Regions from separate parts of the Homo sapiens genome. Here all the other regions are linked to region 1. The links come from fine-mapping of genetic effects on gene expression. A gene starts in region 1. Each other region holds a variant in brackets. All regions are shown on one strand. Distances are from middle to middle. Region 1 holds the start of MTARC1 (mitochondrial amidoxime reducing component 1). Region 2 overlaps MTARC1 (mitochondrial amidoxime reducing component 1). Region 3 overlaps HLX-AS1 (HLX antisense RNA 1). Region 4 overlaps HLX-AS1 (HLX antisense RNA 1).

What was found. PIP is the estimated chance that this variant, and not a neighbour inherited with it, causes the effect.
Region 2: its variant is the best candidate, but not a certain one, in a credible set for the expression of MTARC1 in monocytes (CEDAR, PIP 0.54).
Region 3: its variant is the best candidate, but not a certain one, in a credible set for the expression of MTARC1 in whole blood (INTERVAL, PIP 0.70).
Region 4: its variant is the best candidate, but not a certain one, in a credible set for the expression of MTARC1 in whole blood (INTERVAL, PIP 0.53).

What each region holds. Positions count from the first base shown.
Region 1 is chr1:220,784,490-220,789,646 of GRCh38, forward strand. It overlaps MTARC1 (mitochondrial amidoxime reducing component 1), which reads left to right and starts at 2,424. Exons shown (of 7, transcript NM_022746.4): 1 at 2,424-2,730. The coding sequence starts at 2,456. MTARC2 (mitochondrial amidoxime reducing component 2) reads left to right here. Exons shown (of 8, transcript NM_017898.5): 8 at 1-326.
Region 2 is chr1:220,811,977-220,817,133 of GRCh38, forward strand. MTARC1 (mitochondrial amidoxime reducing component 1) reads left to right here. Exons shown (of 7, transcript NM_022746.4): 7 at 1,316-5,157. The coding sequence ends at 1,442. Among named protein-coding and RNA genes, the nearest start is that of LINC01352, 15 kb to the right of the region's middle. RefSeq lists an enhancer at 741-1,940. The variant G/A (reference allele first, on the strand shown) is at 3,028.
Region 3 is chr1:220,833,618-220,838,774 of GRCh38, forward strand. All of the region lies in intron 1 of HLX-AS1 (HLX antisense RNA 1), which reads right to left. Among named protein-coding and RNA genes, the nearest start is that of LINC01352, 6.9 kb to the left of the region's middle. The variant T/C (reference allele first, on the strand shown) is at 2,548.
Region 4 is chr1:220,866,390-220,871,521 of GRCh38, forward strand. All of the region lies in intron 1 of HLX-AS1 (HLX antisense RNA 1), which reads right to left. Among named protein-coding and RNA genes, the nearest start is that of HLX, 10 kb to the right of the region's middle. The variant CA/C (reference allele first, on the strand shown) is at 2,349.

The sequences.
Region 1 (5,157 bases):
GTTTTAGTACTCTATTACACCTTTACTAAGCCACATAAAAGTAATCTGTTTGTGTGTAACTGCCAGATATACCACCTGGAATTCCAAGTAAGATAAGGAAGAGGATGACATTTAAAAGAGAATGGAATTTTGAGAGTAGGAATGCAAGGAAGACAGCATGAACATATTTTTTTCAGTGCAAATAATTTTTTCGTAACAAAGAAACGAACAACTTTGGTATGATCTTAAGCAAAAATACTCACTGAAATAGTATGTGGATGAATTCACCTACTTACAATTTTATGGTTTCTTTGTAAATAATAAATGTGAATCTCAATCCTGCTTTATCTTTGGTATTTATGAGTCTTCTTCCTGGGTTTTTCTCTTTATATTAGAATTTGAGTCACTGCAATTTATTTTTCCTTACCCTTTCTGATTGCCTCCAGAGATACAATCTGACTCCACAAACACTGGCTTCTGTCATTGGCAGGGGGCGAGGGCGTTGTGAGCTGCAGGCACACAGGTGGCCTGTCTGTGGCAGGATGGCCAGTGTCCGCAAGGGGCCTTCCTAGTGGTCAGTGAGGAGTGGCTGTTCCCTCCTCCTCCATTTTCCTTTGCTGGGTTCTGGGACTGAAATTCACCACCATTCCCCGCACCCTGTGAGGTAAAAGTGGTAAGTGAGCTGTAGGCCTGGGTAAATTCTGGAAGTGATGAAATTGAAAAATCAGAACTTCAAAGTCAGCCATTAAAATAGGGAAGCCATTTTTTCCTCTTAAATTTTCAAAGAGGAATTCAGGAGGGAGATAAACAGAAACGCACATTTGGTGCCCCGGAACTGCCTTTCCGAGGAGGATCAAGTCGTGCCTCCTGCTGAGCTGTGTCCTTTACAGACAAGGTGTGACCTGGGGTTGGAAGAGAAGAGAATAGAGCAGAAAAACAGGACAGATAAGTGTTCAGGCCAATAAAGACAGAGCCTCCCTGAGCACTGAACTGCTCTGCAGTGAGTTGCCAGCTGGAGGAAGAGTGTTGTTCTTTTCTCTTGGCGAACTCCCGCTTCTCATCCATGCACCCTTGCCCTGCATGGGCAATTCTGGCTGAGTCTTGCAATGTACACTCCTGGCTCAGGGGACCATGGCTGAGCTGGGGATAACACAGACTCTCCTTGACCAAACTTCGGACTCTCCTGTGCCCTTTTCTTCATGAGGCCTTGACCTTGCCACCCTACTCCCTGCAGAGCCCAGTTTAGCAAGAATCCTGCTTAGTCAGTTTCCAGAGTATTCTCCCATCCTTAATATCTGATCACCCTTGATGTCTGCTCAGATTCCTCATATGTCACCCTCAGTGTGTAAGTCCTTGCCTTGTTCAGTAGAATCCTGTTAAGTGGGTTTATCAAGAATCCTCTACACTTGATGTCTCCGCTTAGTGATTTTCCATTCACTGACCCCGAGGAACTTCGCTCCTTGGCTATGAATCCTGAGCTGTCTTTGCTGTAATACAGAGTTGAGCCTAATCTCTTTCCCCTATTGTGATGCCCCTGTTACAGTAGCCTTGAATAGTCTTCCTTACCTTTTTAACAAGCGTCTGAGGGAATTTTTTTCCTTTAATAGCTTGGTACATCAAGCAGGAGCCTGACTCCTAAACCACGCTGTTCGGGGTATGCTAACATTGTTGTCTGGAATATAACCTGATTTGGAAGTGACAAGTGACTGAGGTGAGTGCCTGCAGGACCAAGTGACTTTCCCTCCCGCCGGAAGCAGCCCGGGGACCTTGTGCAGCGTTAAACTGAGCCAAGGCCCTTGCCAATGCAGCTCCAGCTCGAGGCTCCCCGCCGGTAGGAGTCGAGCGTCCCCGAGCCGTGTAGAAGGCACTCTCAGACGCCCATTGCCGCTCCCAGGGGCCGCCGGGAGAACTCTGGCCTTGGCTCGCCGGCGCGGAGGGCCTGGTAGCATCCTCCTTCATCAGACCCCCACTCTCTGGAAGCTCCTAGCCCCTGGGCAGACTGAGGGGAGGGCGGCGGCAGCAGAGAGCTGGACACTGCACAGGCCAGGCAGGGCCTACCAGCTCTCCACTATTCCCAGGAGAGGCTGCTGCCAGCTGTCTGATTTCTAATTTCAAAATCACGCTTTGTCCTGCAAATGTTGTATATTGTTTATTTTAGGTCAAATAACCCCATAAATACGTAAGTAAATAAATTGGTCACTTGCAGCGATCGTGGGGTGGGGGAGGGCACAGCGCCCTGCAGCGCAGGCGACGGAAGGTTGCAGAGGCAGTGGGGCGCCGACCAAGTGGAAGCTGAGCCACCACCTCCCACTCCCCGCGCCGCCCCCCAGAAGGACGCACTGCTCTGATTGGCCCGGAAGGGTTCAGGAGCTGCCCAGCCTTTGGGCTCGGGGCCAAAGGCCGCACCTTCCCCCAGCGGCCCCGGGCGACCAGCGCGCTCCGGCCTTGCCGCCGCCACCTCGCGGAGAAGCCAGCCATGGGCGCCGCCGGCTCCTCCGCGCTGGCGCGCTTTGTCCTCCTCGCGCAATCCCGGCCCGGGTGGCTCGGGGTTGCCGCGCTGGGCCTGACCGCGGTGGCGCTGGGGGCTGTCGCCTGGCGCCGCGCATGGCCCACGCGGCGCCGGCGGCTGCTGCAGCAGGTGGGCACAGTGGCGCAGCTCTGGATCTACCCTGTGAAATCCTGCAAGGGGGTGCCGGTGAGCGAGGCGGAGTGCACGGCCATGGGGCTGCGCAGCGGCAACCTGCGGGACAGGTACGGCCAAGCGCCGGCGCGGGGCAGCGCTGATCCGGCTCGGGGCAAGGGGGTGAGAAGGGAGGAGCGCAGGGGAGGTCTGCAGAGTCTGCTAACAGGTCCTTCCTCCTATTACAAAGAAACTGGGAGTTGGGTGAGACAAGGCCAAAGAGAAAAAGGAACCCTCACCCCCCAGCATCAGACCCCAGGGCTCTGGGACTCTGAGCGCGTGGACCCGTTTTCCCGGGGTGGGCGGATCTCCACCTCCCACTGGCTCTTTGGCGTCATGTGCTCCTGCTGAGGTGTGGTATCGCTCCCAGGTGTCTGCCAGTGAGCAAACTTCTTAATCTCCATTTAGTGGAGGCGGCTAGCTTGAAGAGGTTGGTTCCCAGTCGCTATTTTGAGTGACTTTCTTGAGATCTTGGAGAAAGCTGAACTGTAGAGTCCAGCCCTCCAAGAGCGCACCAAGGCGGAGCTCATAATAGTAATGACAGCAGTTCAACGAATACCTTCGGGCGCGGTGGCTCACGCTTGTAATCCCAGCACTTTGGGAGGCCGAGGCGGGTGCATTACCTGAGGTCAGGAGTTCGAGACCAGCCTGACCAACATGGTGAAACCGCGTCTCTACTAAAAACAAACAAACAAACAAAAAAACAAAAATTAGCCGGGCGTAGTGGCGCGCACCTGTAATCCCAGCTACTCAGGAGGCTGAGGCAGGAGAATAGCTTGAACCCGGGAGGTGGAAGTTGCAGTGAGCCAGGATTGCGCCACTGCACTCCAGCCTGGGCAACAGAGCGAGACTCCGAATCAAAAAAAGAAAGAAAGAAAGAAAGAGTTGTGGGGGCATTGCAGATGCTATTTTCCCCAATTCTCTCCAATGCTCTCAAGCACTCTTGTGGATAAAGAAGTTGAATTCAGAGCCACACAGCAGCAGAACCAGGACTCTTATTTTCTTTAGCACACTGGGGCTTTGTAAAGAGTGACTTTGTTAATGTCCTGTCTGGGTTCTGAGAGCTGCGTGGATTCCTGGGGTTCAGCGAAGGCTGCAAAACCCGGGAGCCGGCAGCTTTGTCCTCTTTAGGGTCTGGCTTCAGGCCAGCCTCGGGTCTTATTGTGAGGCTGCACTTGAAACTCCTTTCCAGAGCAGCCCTCGCAGTTCAGCAAGTAACACAGGACTAATGGGAGCTGTAACCTTTCTCCTACCAGCTCCCCAGACAGAGGGCAATTCATGACATAGTTGAAAGGTGAGTGACGTATGCATCTTTGCTTCAGGAAGGAAGCCAAGAATCCTAAATATTCCATGTTTTGGGCCAGGCGCGGTGGCTCACTTCTGTAATCCCAGCACTTTGGGAGGCCGAGGCGGGTGGATCACAAGGTCAGGAGATTGAGACCATCCTGGCTAACAGGGTGAAACCCCTTCTCTACTAAAAAATACAAAAAATTAGCCGGGCTTGGTGGTGGGCGCCTGTAGTCCCAGCTACTCGGGAGACTGAGGCAGGAGAATGGCGTGAACCCGGGAGGCGGAGCTTGCAGAGCTCCACTGTGGCAGAGATCTCGCCACTGCACTCCAGTCTGAGCGACAGAGTGAGACTAAGTCTCAAAAAAAAAAAAAATCCATGTTTCGTATAGTAGGCTCTGAAAAGTGGTAGAGTTTTTGTAGGCCCCAGAGGCAAAGGGCACTGGAATTTTACTACTTAGATTCAAAAAGCAGTTTTTGAGCTCATATTACAATAGATGACAAGAAGAGCTGGCCTTTGTACCAGACACTATGATAAATTCTTTATTTTCGTTCATCACACACTCCCAGAAAGTGTGATCAAAAGAAGCCAACACTGGCTTACAGTCCTAGGTTGTGACTAGACTAAACAGAGGTTGTGACACGTGCCAGGGTGCCAGCATAGAGGATGCGACACGTGCCAGGGTGCCAGCATAGAGGATGCAGTGCTGGAAGCTGGCTGGGGCCGTCAGGGACAACATCAGAGAGAAAGTAACAGCTTGAGCTGAAAACTGGAAAACGATTCAGAACTTGCTGGGCAAGTAAATTGGGAGAAGAACTTTCTAGAGAGGGAATAAGCTGGGCAAAGACACTCGGCTTGTGAGGATGGGGTATGCTAGGGGAAAGGCTGGCATAGTCAATGCCAGAGGGGTCCAATCTTTTGGCTTCCCTGGGCCACATTGGAAGAAGAATTGTCTTGGGCCACACATAAAATACACTAACACTAACAACAGCTGATGAGCAAAAACAAAAACAAAAACAAAAAAAATCTCATAATGTTTTAAGAAAGTTTATGAATTTGTGTTGGGCCTCATTCAAAGCTGTCCTGGGCCACGGGTTGGACAAGCTTACTCTAAGGTATTTACCAAAAGGAACTGGGACATAAATAGGATGAATGTTCTTTGCAGCATTGAGTGTTGAATGTTCATTATGATGTTATTCACAGTAGCCAA
Region 2 (5,157 bases), 27 kb after region 1:
CCTGACATTACAGGACAAGATGTGTGAGTATTGGAGGGGCAAAGAGAATTGAGGAGGGGGAATTACTCGTAGCTGGGGGAACCTGGGCTTCCTTCCTGGGAGATGTGGTGTTTGATTTGGGCCTTGAGGCAGGTACAATTCTAAAGCATGGGGACCTGGAGGAGGAGCATCCCACAGGAATCACAGAGGACTTACCGAGTCAGTACAATGCAAAGCAAGGTGAAATCCAGCAGAGAGCTGCAGAGGCACAGGTAAGGAGCAGATGGCAACAGGTCTGAAAAAGCAGGCTGGGGCCAGGTAGAGCCCTACATACCAGGCTGAATAGTTGGAATGTTATTCTTTAGGCACTGGAGAGCCACGGAAGGTTTGTGAGCCTAGGAATGATAAGACCAGAACACAATTAAAACAGTGATATAGTGCAGTGTCAACAATGAATTGAAAACAGGTAGAGAATGAGGAAAAGAGGTTGGTTAAGAAGTTATTATGATAGTCTGAGCATGCTGGAAGCAAGATCGTGACAGTCGGAATGAGGAAAAGCAAGCCAAGTCAAATGATGTTGTACAGGAAGAACCTTGGAACTCGGCAGCTGCGGACAGGCTGTGGGAAGAGAGGACAGTGGTGTAAAGGATGGGCTCCCAGCCCAAGTGACGGCTAGGATGGTGGTTCAGGTGACAGACATGGAGGAGACAGGAGGAAAGATGCCTAGGGCAAAGGAAGATGATAAAGTATGTCTAGACACATTGAGTATCTAATTTTTTTTTTTTTTGAGACGGAGTCTTGCTCCATTGCCCAGGCTGGAGCGCAGTGGCACAATCTCCGCTCACTGCAAGCTCCGCCTCCCAAGTTGATGCCATTCTCCCACCTCAGCCTCCCGAGTAGCTGGGACTACAGGCACCTGCCACCACTCCTGGCTAATTTTTTGTATTTTTAGTAGAGATGAGGTTTCACCGTGTTAGTCAGGATGGTCTTGATCTCCATCCTGGTTGTGATCTGCCAGCCTCGGCCTCCCAAAGTGCTGGGATTACAGGCATGAGCCACCACACCTGGCCAAGTATCTAACGTCTTAATGCCGAAAGGGGGAACATGAAGGTAGAGAAAAGATGTGGGGATGTGGCCATTGCTTATGCTTCTGTCGTTGTTTGCTGGGCAGGCTGTTCACTGCCCCACTCCAGGAGGCGCTGTTCTGTTGAGCTTTGACGGGATGGTGCCCTCTCGAGCTGTGCGTGCGGAGGCCCTGTGTGGGATGGAAGCCACGTGCTGGTTGAGCTCTTGCATCCGCTTGGCTGTGACTCATCATGATCTTTTCCTATTGCAGTTATCGCCAGTGTGACCCTTCAGAACGAAAGTTATATGGAAAATCACCACTCTTTGGGCAGTATTTTGTGCTGGAAAACCCAGGGACCATCAAAGTGGGAGACCCTGTGTACCTGCTGGGCCAGTAATGGGAACCGTATGTCCTGGAATATTAGATGCCTTTTAAAAATGTTCTCAAAAATGACAACACTTGAAGCATGGTGTTTCAGAACTGAGACCTCTACATTTTCTTTAAATTTGTGATTTTCACATTTTTCGTCTTTTGGACTTCTGGTGTCTCAATGCTTCAATGTCCCAGTGCAAAAAGTAAAGAAATATAGTCTCAATAACTTAGTAGGACTTCAGTAAGTCACTTAAATGACAAGACAGGATTCTGAAAACTCCCCGTTTAACTGATTATGGAATAGTTCTTTCTCCTGCTTCTCCGTTTATCTACCAAGAGCGCAGACTTGCATCCTGTCACTACCACTCGTTAGAGAAAGAGAAGAAGAGAAAGAGGAAGAGTGGGTGGGCTGGAAGAATATCCTAGAATGTGTTATTGCCCCTGTTCATGAGGTACGCAATGAAAATTAAATTGCACCCCAAATATGGCTGGAATGCCACTTCCCTTTTCTTCTCAAGCCCCGGGCTAGCTTTTGAAATGGCATAAAGACTGAGGTGACCTTCAGGAAGCACTGCAGATATTAATTTTCCATAGATCTGGATCTGGCCCTGCTGCTTCTCAGACAGCATTGGATTTCCTAAAGGTGCTCAGGAGGATGGTTGTGTAGTCATGGAGGACCCCTGGATCCTTGCCATTCCCCTCAGCTAATGACGGAGTGCTCCTTCTCCAGTTCCGGGTGAAAAAGTTCTGAATTCTGTGGAGGAGAAGAAAAGTGATTCAGTGATTTCAGATAGACTACTGAAAACCTTTAAAGGGGGAAAAGGAAAGCATATGTCAGTTGTTTAAAACCCAATATCTATTTTTTAACTGATTGTATAACTCTAAGATCTGATGAAGTATATTTTTTATTGCCATTTTGTCCTTTGATTATATTGGGAAGTTGACTAAACTTGAAAAATGTTTTTAAAACTGTGAATAAATGGAAGCTACTTTGACTAGTTTCAGATCTTACTAACTTCTTGGCACAAAGTTAGACTGTGAAAGCTGACTGAGGCTGGGCACAGGGGCTCATGCCTGTAATTCCAGCACTTTGGGAGGCCAAGGTGGGAGAATGGCTTGAGCCCAGGAGTTTGAGACCAGCCCAGAAAATATAATGGGATCCTGTCGCTACAAAATGTTTTTAAAATGCACTCGGTGTGGTGGTGTGTGCCTGCAGTCCTGGCTATGGCTACTCGGGAGGATGAGGTAGAAGGATTGGTTGAGCCCAGGAGCGGGAGATTGAGGCTGCAGTGAGTTATGATTGCACCACTACACTCCAGCCTGAGTGATAGAGTGAGACCCTATCTCTAAAAAAGAAACAGGAAAAAAAAAGAAAGCTGACTGAGGTGAATGGGCAAAGCCAGTAATTCTGACACCTGACCACAGCTGGGTCTTCTGCATAATGGACCTCCTCACCCACAGCCTCCCAGGCAAGCACCCATGTTTGAAGGACTATCAAGTCAACATGCTTTTTACCAAAAGCTGCACATTTTTCACTTTGATTTTATAAAAGAGGTCAGTAATCGCTGAAATCTAGCTGAGCCCTGAAGTAAAGTTCTGAGCAAAGAGGT[G/A]CATGTGCTTGTTTTATGGTTGGTGAATTATTACAGTTTGTTTTCTGCATGCTTGGCATGAGGTGAATAATTACATCAATTTTCCAGAGAACCTGGGCCATCACCTTCCCCAACAAGTCCAGTTGATGTTGAAACTACAGATAGATTGAGACAAAGCGAAGTGTTCAGCAAGTAGCATTACTAATGGGACCGGGGGACCCGTGGGAGAGTGAGTGTACACAGGATTTAGGAAACCATGTGAATATGGGCTCTCTGGGAATAGCCAATAGGTAGGGAGCAATCAGAAACCCAAGGTTTGGTGGCTCTTCCTAGGTATTTATAATTAGTGGCAAGTGAAAGCCTTAGTCCTGAATTTCTAACCACTTGTAAGAACTAACAGCCACTTCTCTGTGCCCCGTCCGGGCAGTAACCATCATTCTCCATGGACAGGCTCTCGGGGTAGCTAGCTCTGCAGGGCAGCACCCACGTGGAAGGGAGCACCCAGAAACCCTCCTCACTGGGCAGACCTGTCCTTCTGTGCCTCACAGTGTGAGGAAGATTCCTGTTTGAAGAGAGAAGTTCCAGTGACCTCTAGAATCTCAGAGTAGTTGCCAAGCTTTCTGTCAGTGAGATTTAAAGGCCATTTACTTGTGTTTATTTTATATTTAATGAGTTGGTTAATGCCAGAGACAAAGCTGATATCCCATTTATTTTGGATACTGAGCATTTGCACACTATTCCACTTGAAATATAGAATCAGGAATGTAGGCCATCCCAGACTTTCAGATCTTACAACAGCAAATGACAGATGTTTGAGATCAGGCCAAAATATCCACCCTCGGTGGGCATCTCCTCTGTGTGGCAACTTATGCTGCAGCCACAGTGGGGAGTCACAAACTCAGAGCTGGAGGTCTTGAAAAGGACAATGTGGGCCAGGCTCCGGAGGGGCTGCCTAAAGGCTTGCTTTTGTGACTCTCCTGCAGAAAATGTTAGAAACTTCCAACCGAAAGACGAGGGCAGCAACTTATACACACGAAGGCAGAAAGAAATTGGGGAAGGGGAGGCTGTTGGAATTCAGGCCGTTGTCCTATAGGGAGAAATACTCCTCCTCTCCTTCTCCCTTTACTGATAACGGGGCATGGTGAGGAGATGAGCTTGTGAGGGTCTGCCAGTTTGGTAAGAGTGCATGGGGAGGTTGGGTAAATTAGACTAGCCAAATGGGACTTCGGGAAACCATTTATGAGGCTGTCACCAACAGTGATGGCAGGCTGAAATTCCAGGCAAGTGCTCCCAGCATTCCAAGAGTGTATCAAATTAAAGCAACCCATGATGGTGGAGAACAGATACATTAAAGTTCCTTGAAAATGACAGAGTGGCTCTCAGACCAGACCTTGATTGTGGGTATAATCGGAGTGTTGCTACCACACCCTAACACTGCATTTCCCGTGTTTTATTGGTCCATGGAATTCTGAAAGTTTGCCTTTCGGGATGCTTCTAAAAACAATTCCATGGACCAGTAAGTTTGGAAAGTCCTGCGTGCCTCACTTCTCTTCAAAGGCAAAAGGCTCTGGAGAGGCCTTCATGAAGACATCTGTGTTTAATGCTGCCCTTCCCAAAGGTCTGTTTTTGACTGTCTTTTGAGAAATGATCCTCTGATCTCTAGGCAGAATGCCAGTGAGCCAAGGAATCCCAGTTAGCAGGAGGGGTGCACTCATGGGAAGACTGAAGAAGTTAAAAGTTCCCGCCAAGTGAAGGAGACCTATCTTGGGACACTTCCCCTTGTCCTCTCCCTTGCCCCTCTTGCTGGAGTAAAAGGATGGAACTGGGACTTGATAGGTTAAAGGAGGTGTGGAGAAGTGTCTTAGACCAGCTCTCCTGTTGTGGGCCTTAGGGAGAAGCACTCTCTTTCTTCGGGATCATTTTCCAAACATGCATTTTTGGATGGATAGGGTGGATCAGGGTGAGGGAAGGGAAACCAAACTCTCTCTAACCTTGCCCTTACAGCAATACCTGTGATGTAAGTTACAAAACCACCTGTGATGAAAGTGCTCCAGGATGCTTCATGCACCAGGGAGGGGTGCCCTGTTTCTCTTCTGCTAGCTTCTCCTTTCTTTTTTTTTTTTCTTCTTTTTTTTGAGACAGTGTCTCACT
Region 3 (5,157 bases), 49 kb after region 1:
AATAACTTTAAGTCTATAAAATTATTTTCTTCTGGGACTAAAAGCTCACATGATACACTATATTTATCACTCACTGAATCTCATTGTCTTATTCAAAATTTCCACTTCCTACAGTTAACTTCTTTTGGCCCATGACCTGTCACATTTCTTTTATGGCTAGTATATTGAATTTCAACTATCAGCAGTCATTTATTAAAAACAAAACACATCCACAGAAAACCAGGCAGACACAGCTTGATTAATAACAAGTCGGTGCTTTCCTCTCATACTTCTTTCAGGTTAGAGAAGTTGGAAAACTGCTAATGAGTCTTCTGTACCTTTTAAAGAAATGTCTTAGAGTAATCTTACAATTAGGAGTTTCCTATGTCAGGTAGAAATTAAATGCTTTGAAAGCTTCCAGTTTCAAAAAAGGTGGTGAGCTAGCACAGGATATTGGCTTCCTCCCAAAGCCCAATCTTGAAGTGAGAGGAAGTTGCCAGATCCTGAAAATGAAGAGAAAAGCTGTAGAGATTTTCATGGTGAGGGTGGGAGACATGGTAAGGGTGAGACTGGGGGAGGGCAAAATGTCACAGACACTTTGGGTGTGATGAGTAATTTTATGTCAGCTTGACTGGACCAAGGATGCCCTGACATTTGATCAAACATTATCCTGGGTTTGTCTGTGAGGTTGTTTCTGGATAAGGTTGGCATTTGAATTGGTAGACTGAGTAATGCAGATTGCCTTTCCTAATATGGGTGGGCCTCATCTAATCAGTTGAAGGCTTGGCTAGAACTGAAGACTGAGAAAGAGGAAAATTCTTCTGCCGGACTATTTGAGCAGGAACATCGGTCTTTTTCTACCTTTGGATTTGAACTAAAACATCAGCTCTTCCTGGGCTTTGAGCCTGCCACCTTTTGGACTGGAATTTACGCCATCAGCTCTCCTGTTTCTTAGGTGTTTGGACTCAGATTGGAATGACACTTCGGCTCTCCTGGGTCTTCAAGTTGCTGACTACTGACCTTGAGACTTCTTGGCCAGCCCCCATAATCCTGTGAGCCAATTAGTCTCCTGTTGGTTTTGTTTCTCTGGAGAACCTTGACTAACATACTGGAGTTATGCCTGGAAAGTGCTTGCCAGTTGGTTTCTTTCTTTCCTTCATATTTATCTGGATGGATCACTGCCCACCACATTGACCCTATAGGACAGGAAAATAGTTATGCCTCTCAAAGGCAACAGAATAAGATCCTAGATCCTGACCAGGATAGTCAATAGAGATTTGCTGGACAGGCCACTCTGAGGATTCCCTTACCAAAACCTTTTTAACATTCCATTTTACCTCCTCTACTGGTTACTTACCTCTTTCCATTTTTTTTTTAGCAATTGTTCTAGGGATTGCATATGCATCCTTAACTTATCACTTAGAGCTAATATTGCATGAAATATAAGAGCAATATGCAATATGATAGCAATGTCCTGCTGATGCTTTGGGCTTAGAGATTACCACAGAGAAAGACAGCCTCTGAAAAGAGCAGTGCCTGAGTGGAGGTTCTGGGCATTACTACATACCTAGGAATTATAGCAGAATGCAACATCATCCTGAAGTGCTTAGAAGCGTGCCCCTTTCCCAACTCACTTGGAGTCTATACAATCTAGGCATTTGACTCTCCTCCAAGGTATATACGAACAGTAATGGTAGCTGATAGGATTTCAGAAGAAAAAAAAAAAAAAAGAGAATTCTGAGGAACACAAACATCAGTAAAGAAAGGCCAAAAACTGAACAACATATACCAGAGGAAGCAGAGTTAAGGGTCTGGGAAGAACAGGAATATAAATAAATGTAATAAGTATTTTCAAAATTCTAATAAAGGATGTTGGAAACAAGAAGCAGATATAAATTATGAATAGGAGCCAAATGGAAATACAGGGTAGAAAAAATATAATAGTTGAAATAGAGAGTTCAGTGGGATGAAAGTATTTTTTCTTCCTTCCATTTCTTTAAAATATATGAGTGTTTAAAGCAAAAATTAGAGTACTCTCTTTGGGGTTTATAATGTATTGAGATATAATATGTATGTAACAATAGCACAAAGGCTGGGAGTGGACAAATGGAATTATACTGTTGCAATATGCTCTTATATTTCAGGCAATATTAGCTCTAAGTAATAAGTTAAGGATGCATATACAATCCCTAGAACAACTGCTAAACAAAAAATGCGAAGAGGTAAAGCTAAGTAGCCAGTAGAGGCGATAAAATGGAATGCTAAAAAATATTCAGTCATTCGGGTGCGGTGGCTCATGCCTGTAATCCCAGCCCGTTGGGAGGCCATATAAAACCCAAGTTTCTACTTTATGAAACTAGAAGAAGAAGAGCAATTAAACCCACAGTAAATATAAAGAAAGAAATGCTAGGGATAAGAGAAGAAATCAATCACATACAAAATAGAAAAATAATAGAGACAACTAACAAAATCAAAAATTGGTTATTTTGGAAGATTAATGAAGTGAAACATATGTCCACAAAAAGACTTTACAAGAATGTTTATAGCAACTTTATTCATAATAGACAA[T/C]AACTGGAAACCAATGTCTATGAATAGAAGAATAGATAGATCAATGTGGTATAGTCATACAATGGTATACTACTGAACAATACAAAGGAAAGAACTGTTAGAACACACAACAGCATGGATCAATGTCTCAGACATGCTGAGCAAGAGGCAAAACAAAAGGGAGTAGATACTTTATGATCCCATTTATATGAGGCCAAGAACAGGAAAACAGACAAAAATCTATGGTGAAAAAAATAAAATATAAGAAATGGCTGCTGGTGGGAAGGTGGTTGACAAAAGAACTTTCTGGGATCATGGAAATGCTTTATATCTTGATAGCTGTGTGGTTAGATGGGTGATTTCATTTACCACTACTCATCAAACTGCAGTTAAAATCTGTGCATTTCACTTCTGAAGATTGTATATGAAGAAGAACTGTAAGCAAACATTAAACTTATTATGAAGTTTGCTTGTTGAAGTAGTAATGGTTAGCAAAAGAGTAAAAATATTGAGGATAATGGGAGCCAGATTTCCCATTGTTGGAGTTACAAACACAGCAAGAAGGATGAGTAGAATGTACTCTGTGTTGTTGAATTGAGATTAGGGGTATCAGTCTGAACATCAGTATAATAAAATACATGATATATTATATATATTTCCTAGCCATTGTCACCTGAAAAGACCTAAAAGCCATGCCACATCGGCGGCAATGGTTCTATCTAATGCCCAGATCCTGGTTTCTAAATACCACCTTCCATTAAAAGAAATCAGCGTTCTTTGGAGAAAAGGCTGATTCCAGGGCTGGGGCAGAAGTCAACAATGAGCCTAGAACATCTTGTTTGTGCTGGAAAGTCAGGAAGTGCTTGTCCAGTAACGAGGATATGTTAAAACCATATTGGAGCTAGCCTGAAGTGGCTGTCACAGGCCAAATCTATTATAATTTTATAATTGAATAGTAATAAATTAAACTCATTTGACAAAATGAAAATCCATTGATCCATATTGATATTGTCAGTCAATGAATAAATAAATAAATACGGGTAAAGAACAAGCTCTTCCTTACAGCAGAAGGAATGTTGGAGTTAGAAAATTATCAATGGGTGCTAAAACTGAAAAGTGAAAATTTAGGGAAGAAAAGAACATTTACATTGTCTCAAAGGATCTTGCAAAATATTACTTATTAGTTACGAAGGTGAAAATACTACCCTTACAGTGGAGAAATATGGCAGTTTTCACCTTACATCAAGAAGCTTTAGACAAACCCAAATTGAGGAATATTCTACAAAATAACTGATATGTCCTCTTCAGAAAAGTCAAGGTTAAGAAAAAAGGCTGAGAAACTGTTCCAAATTAAAGGAGGTTAAAGAGATAAGCCAACACAGCACAGTGCATGATCCTGGACTGGATACTGGTTTGGGAGAGCAGAATAGCTCTGTGCCCAGTACTGGGACAAATGTTACCATTTGAATATGCAATGTAGATTACATAATCATATTGTATTATGTCAGTGTTAAATATCCAGATTTTGATAATGGAACTGTGACATATAAAAGAATGTTTGTGTTTTTAAGGAAATAAACATTGAAATATTTAGGGATAAAGGGGCTGATATCTCCAGCTTACTCTCAAATGATTAAAAATGCCTACATATAAATAGATAGAAATAGGAAGTAAGGAAGCAAATGGGGCAAAATATGAAATGATTAATAAATCTAGGTAAAGAGTATATGGGCATTTCCTGCACTATTCTTTCAATTTTTCTTTAAATTTGAAATTGTATCAAAATTATAAGTTACCAACAAAATCCATGGGGAAAGGATTGTTTAGTAGAGGCAATCGAAATAGTGAGGAGTTAAAGGCAACCATAAATCTCTTCCCAAGGAACGAATAGTTATGTCAGACACAAATAATGGAATACAATGCAGAGTCAGAATTTTTAAATTATTTATCTGTCATCTATCTTATTTATCAATCAATCTTGAAAGGACAACATGACTAAATCTCAAAAATATATTTTTGCATGAAAAAGTAATGAATATAACGAGATCCACAGATAAATACGATTTGTGTACATTAATCACATATATGCAATAATATCATCATATTTACAGGTATGGACCTAACTAAGAACATAAAGTAGATACCCAGGAGTGGGTGCTTATGGGAGAGAAATGAATGAAAGTCAGGCTGGAAGAATAAAAGGAGAAAATAATAAAGTAAAATAACATAAGAAAGGAGCCTTGCAAGGGATGATGATGATGATATGACATGGACAGAAAAATATGATTAAGTTAAATATTTGCCACTGGTGTCCCAAAAATAGGAGGTGGTGGAAGAAAGGAAACAAAATGTGGAGTCCCTTTCAAGATGCCATTTAGACTCAGGTTTTTAGTTGATTCATTCATAAAACACATACTTGCCTGTGCACCAGGCACCTTGCTAGATGCTGGGAAAATAGTTTGAACGAGATAGGAACTAGGAACATCTTACAGTCCAGGAAACTAACCCCAGTGAGTGTTAGTATGTCACCGGAGAAGGCCAAGGATGGTATTTGCGATGAGGAAAGTTCAGAATAACTACCTTTTGCTGAGTTTGCCCAATTAATTCTGCTTCTATGAATGAATCATAGGA
Region 4 (5,132 bases), 82 kb after region 1:
ACTTTGGCTCTAGTAATAATTTTTGTTTTAACTTCTATTTTGTGTAATGTTAATATAGCCACTACATCTCTCTCAATATTGTTTTCATGCTATAGCTTTTCCCATTTTTACTTTCAATCTTTTTGTGTCTTTAAAACTCAAGTGTGTCTTTTGTAGATAGCATAGTTGGATCAATTTTTTAAAATCCATTGTGCCAATTTTTACTTCTTTATTGGAGTATTTAATCCATTTACATTTAATGTAACTAAGATTTATACCTGCCATTTTGTTGTTTTCTACATGTCTCATGTTTTTGTTCCTCTGTTCCTCCATTAGTGTATTATTTTGTTTTAGATATTTTCTAGTGTACCATCCTAGTTATATTATCATGTATTTCATATGTATATTTGATTACAATTAGCATCTTGTAACAATCTAATTTGAAGTAATATTAACTCAATTTTCAATAGTGTACCAAAACTTTACTCCTATATAGCTCTCCTTTGTGGCATTATCATCATACAAATTACATCTCTATATATCATAAGCCCCTCAACACAATTTTATGATTATTGCTTTATGCAGTAATCTTTTAAGTAATATAGAAGAATTACAAACCAAAATTACATTTATATTGTCTTTTATTTTTACTTATGTAGTTGCCTTTACCAGTGCTTTTTATTTTTTTCACGTGAATTCTAGTTACCATCTAGTGTCATTTTATTTCAGCTTTAAGAACTCCCTTTACTATTTTTTTTTTGTAGGGCATGTCTGCTAGTGATGATTCTCTCAGTTTTTGTTGACTTAGGAAAGTTTTAATTTCTATTTCGTTTTTGAGGGATATTTTTGGTGTCTACAGTATGATTTTTTTGACAAGTTTTTCTTTCTACACATTAAATATGCCATCCCATTGTCTTCTGGCCTCCATGGTTTCTAAGAGAAATAAGAAATTTGCTGTTTATCTGATTGAGAATTCTTTATATGTGATAAGTTGCTTCTTACTTGCTGTCTTCAAGAATGTCTTTGTCTCTCAACAGTTTAATTATGATATGTCTAGGTACAGGTCTCTTATACTTCATTGAGCTTCAGCTACATTGGCTGTGTGGATAAATGTTTTTTCCTAAAATCAAATTTGAGAAGTTTTCTGTCGTTTTTCTTCAAATATTCTTTGTGCCATTTCTTTCCTTTCCTTCTCGGACCCTCATTATGCACATGTTGGTGCAATTGGTGATGTCCCATAAGTCTTTGAGTTCCTGCTCATTTCTCTTCATTAATTTTTATTTCTGTTCTGCAGACTGGATAACATCTACTGACCCATCTATAAATCCACTGTTTTTTTTTTTCTGCCAGCTCAAATCTGCTATTGAGCTCCTCTAGTGAATATTTTATTTTAGTCATTGTACTTTTTGACTCCAGAATTTCTATTTGGTTCTTTTAAATAATTCCTATTTCTTTATTGACATTCTTTATTTGGTGATACATCATTCTCACATTTTCCTTTAGTTCTTTGAACATATTTATAATAGCTGATTTTAAGACTTTTCATAGTAAGTCCAATGTGTGGACTTTCTCTGGGACAGTTTCTATTGACTACTTTATTTTCTTGAGTATGGGGCATAATTTCCTGTTTCTTTGTATGTTTTTTTTTTTTTTTTGAGATGGAATCTCGCTCTGTCGCCCAGGCTGGAGTGCAGCGGCGCGATCTCAGCTCACTGTAAGCTCCGCCTCCCGGGTTCAAGCAATTCTCCTGCCTCAGCCTCCTGAGTAGCTGGGACTATAGGCACCCGCCACCACACCCAGCTAATTTTTTTTTTTTTTTTGGATTTTTAGTAAAGATGGGGTTTCACCGTGTTAGCCAGGATGGCCTCGATCTCCTGACCTTGTGATCCACCTGCCTTGGCCTCCCAAAGTGTTGGGATTACAGGGGTGAGCCACCGCGCCTGGCCTGTTTGTATGTCTTGTAGCATTTGTTTGTTTTAGAGATGGTATCTTGTTGTGTTGCCCAGGCTAGTCTCAAACTCCTGGCCTCAAGGGATCCTCCCTCTCACCTCAGTCTCCCAAGTAGCTGGGACTGCAGGCACACTTCACCATGCCGTGTGTGTGTGTGTGTGTGTGTGTGTGTGTGTGTGTGTGTGTATTTAACTCAACATTTTAAACAATATAACGTGACAACTCTGGAAAGCAGATCCCTCCCCTCAACAGGGTTTGTTATATTTATTATTTGTTATTGTAGTTGTTTGTTTAGTGACTTCTCTGAGCTAGTCGTATAAAGTCACTGTTCTTTTTCACATGTAGCCACTGAGGTCTCTGTTTGGTTAGCTTACCATTCAACAAATTATTGGACAGAGATTTCCTTATGTGTCTTGCAT[CA/C]ATAACTCTTACCACCTTTGTCAAGAGACTCTGTGTATGTGTTCGGAGTGCAACTTTAATGGTCTTGCAAGCAGATTACAAGTAAATGTTAGCCTTTATTGTGTGCCTTTGCATAGCCTCAATTTCAGTCAGAGGTGAGTGATTAGGGCCTCTTTAGGTTTTGGGTGGCATCTGCACAGCTCTGCATATGTACATCATCTTCTAAATTCCAATGAATATGTCAGAATTTTACAAAGCCTCCTCGGGACAGTTTATTCTCCAGCCTATCTTTTTAACTTTTTTGTCAACTTCTTGTTTGTCCTCAACTGTTATTGCAGCCACAGGCAGCTGCAATGTGAAAATCATTGCTCATTATTTTGACCAATGCCCCTAGGCTCTGAGTTAGGTGAAATAAAAGTCAGTCCTGCAAGTGAGGGTCTTCAGAGAGCTGCCAGAGAGATCAAAGACGGACAATTCTCTGGGGATGAGACTTTTGGGTACCTCCAAAACTATCCCCCTCACCCCCATCTCCCGGCTCTAGTTACTGCTAGGCTGCTGGTTTTCATAAGACCACGATGGTGAAGCTGTTGGCTTTCAGATTTTCATGATACCATGACGGTGAAGCTGTTGGCTTTCAGAGCTATCACTAAAACTGAGGAGACAGAAATCAGAATACAGCAGGTGAAAATGCTACAAATCTTATCACTTTTACCAAGATTCTGCCATTTTTCTCGAACAAACACTTTTCAAATTGTTACGAGGTTTTGGTTAATTTCCAGAGTTCTGAAAAAGTTGATTCCTGACTCTACTTCCAGTGTTCTTGTTGCTTTTATAGAGGACTGGATTTGTTTTGTCCATTGGCTTTGTCCCATTATTCTTCCTAGCTTTGTTGCACTGCATACTTGGTATATGATATTAATACCTTCTACATCTCCATCTAAATTGTAGACACCAGTGTTGCCCAAGAGTGGACCAGCAACAGTTTGAGGCATATTCCTCAGATTGAACCAACCCCTCTGGGTTCATGTCAGTTACCGGGTGTCAAGGTTGAAGCATTCAATCAATGAGCGTCACATCATTAATCCATATTTCATCATCTTCTCCTAAAGTCTAATATGCAGCCACTGTTAAGTGTTTTGCTTATGTCAAAATGCAGTTTTCAAGTGTTATTACTCTTACTTCTTAATTCTCTTATCCTGCTTTATTTTTCTCCCAGCATTTTTTCCCTATTAACACATATCTAGCCACTTTTTGCCTGCTTCACCACTAGAATGCATGCTTCTTGAAAGCCAGAAGTTTTGTTTTGTTTTACTCGGTTGCCAGTATCTAGATGAACTCCTGGCATATAGTACCTGGCTCAATACATTATTTGTGAATGTAATGAATGAATTAATGAACTTAATAAACTTTTTAGAAAAAAAGTTATTAATTTAACATAACTTGTTATTTAAAAACAATCTGTATTGCTTCAGTGGAATCCTATAAACCTTTCAAAAAGCAGACAATTAATGTACTTGATACTCCAGTCCAAAATTTCCAGGGAACAATATATTTACTAATCTGAAGTTTAAAACCCCTTTAAAATTAGGCCTATTTTTTGGCTCTAGGTTTTGGCATCTCTCTTATTCCTCACAAATTCCCAAAGATATAGTTAACAGTGAATCTAAGATCACATCAGAAAGTTTTTTAGTACTTTGGGATTAAAAAGTAGTAAACCAGAGCTCTCAAGGACTAAACTAATTTAAAGCAACTGCTTTTTCAAAAAAGTTCTTTCAAGGAAGAGGGAATAGTAAAAGCATGTACTATAGTGAAATTTCAAATTTACCTTCATTGTTTAAAAATTATTTATAATTTCAAAAACATTCTCCCTGAATAAGAAGATCTAAGTAAACTAAGAGTTGGATAATTCTTATTTCTCTCTGTTATCAGCGATCGCATCATTTTCACTGAAACCTGGTACTTTTTCATCCTTCTGTGTAGGCACAGATTTAAAAGTCCCATTTGCTACCAATCACATACTTTACAAGTCTAACTTCACTATGGGCTCTAGGCATTCTGCAAGTACACTTAGAGGTTCCTGCCACTCTCTTGACTTTGTCTTTGTAAACTCCGGTTTTGCTTTTTTAAAGATTGAAGCCTATTGAAGAGCCCCCTATGCAGCCATGTGGGCTTCTTTGGATGCCTCACTTTTCCACTGGGATTATAGACAGTTGTTAGGTCTGGATTTGGGTTTGAGAATCCCCCAGTCTCTCCAAGACCTATTCCCCATTACTGTCTCCAGCCATAGGATTAATATTACATCGTTCACATGATAGCTCTGTAAACACCCAAATTTTTCTCTATTTCTTAAGTAACATCCAACATAACAAGTCTACTGAGGTATTCCTGCTTTAAAAAATCAAACTGCTGGCCGGGTGCCGTGGCTCATGCCTATAATCCCAGCACTTTGGGAGGCCGAGGTGGGTGGATTATTTGAAGTCAGGAGTTCAAGACCAGCCTGGCCAACATGGTGAAGCCCCGTCTCTACTAAAAATACAAAAATTAGTCAGGCATGGTGGCAGGCGCCTGTAACCCCAGCTACTCGGGAGGCTGAGGCAGGAGAATCGATTGAACCTGGGAGGCAGAGGTTGCAGTGAGCCAAGATCATGCCACTGCACTCCAGCCTGGGCGACGGAGTGAGACTCTATCTCCACAAACAAAGAGACACCAAACTGCTTTCATAATGGAACTTATGTTGAAAGCATTAAGAAGAGGAATTTATTGAAAATAACACAGTGAACACAGTGAAAATAACACAGTGAATA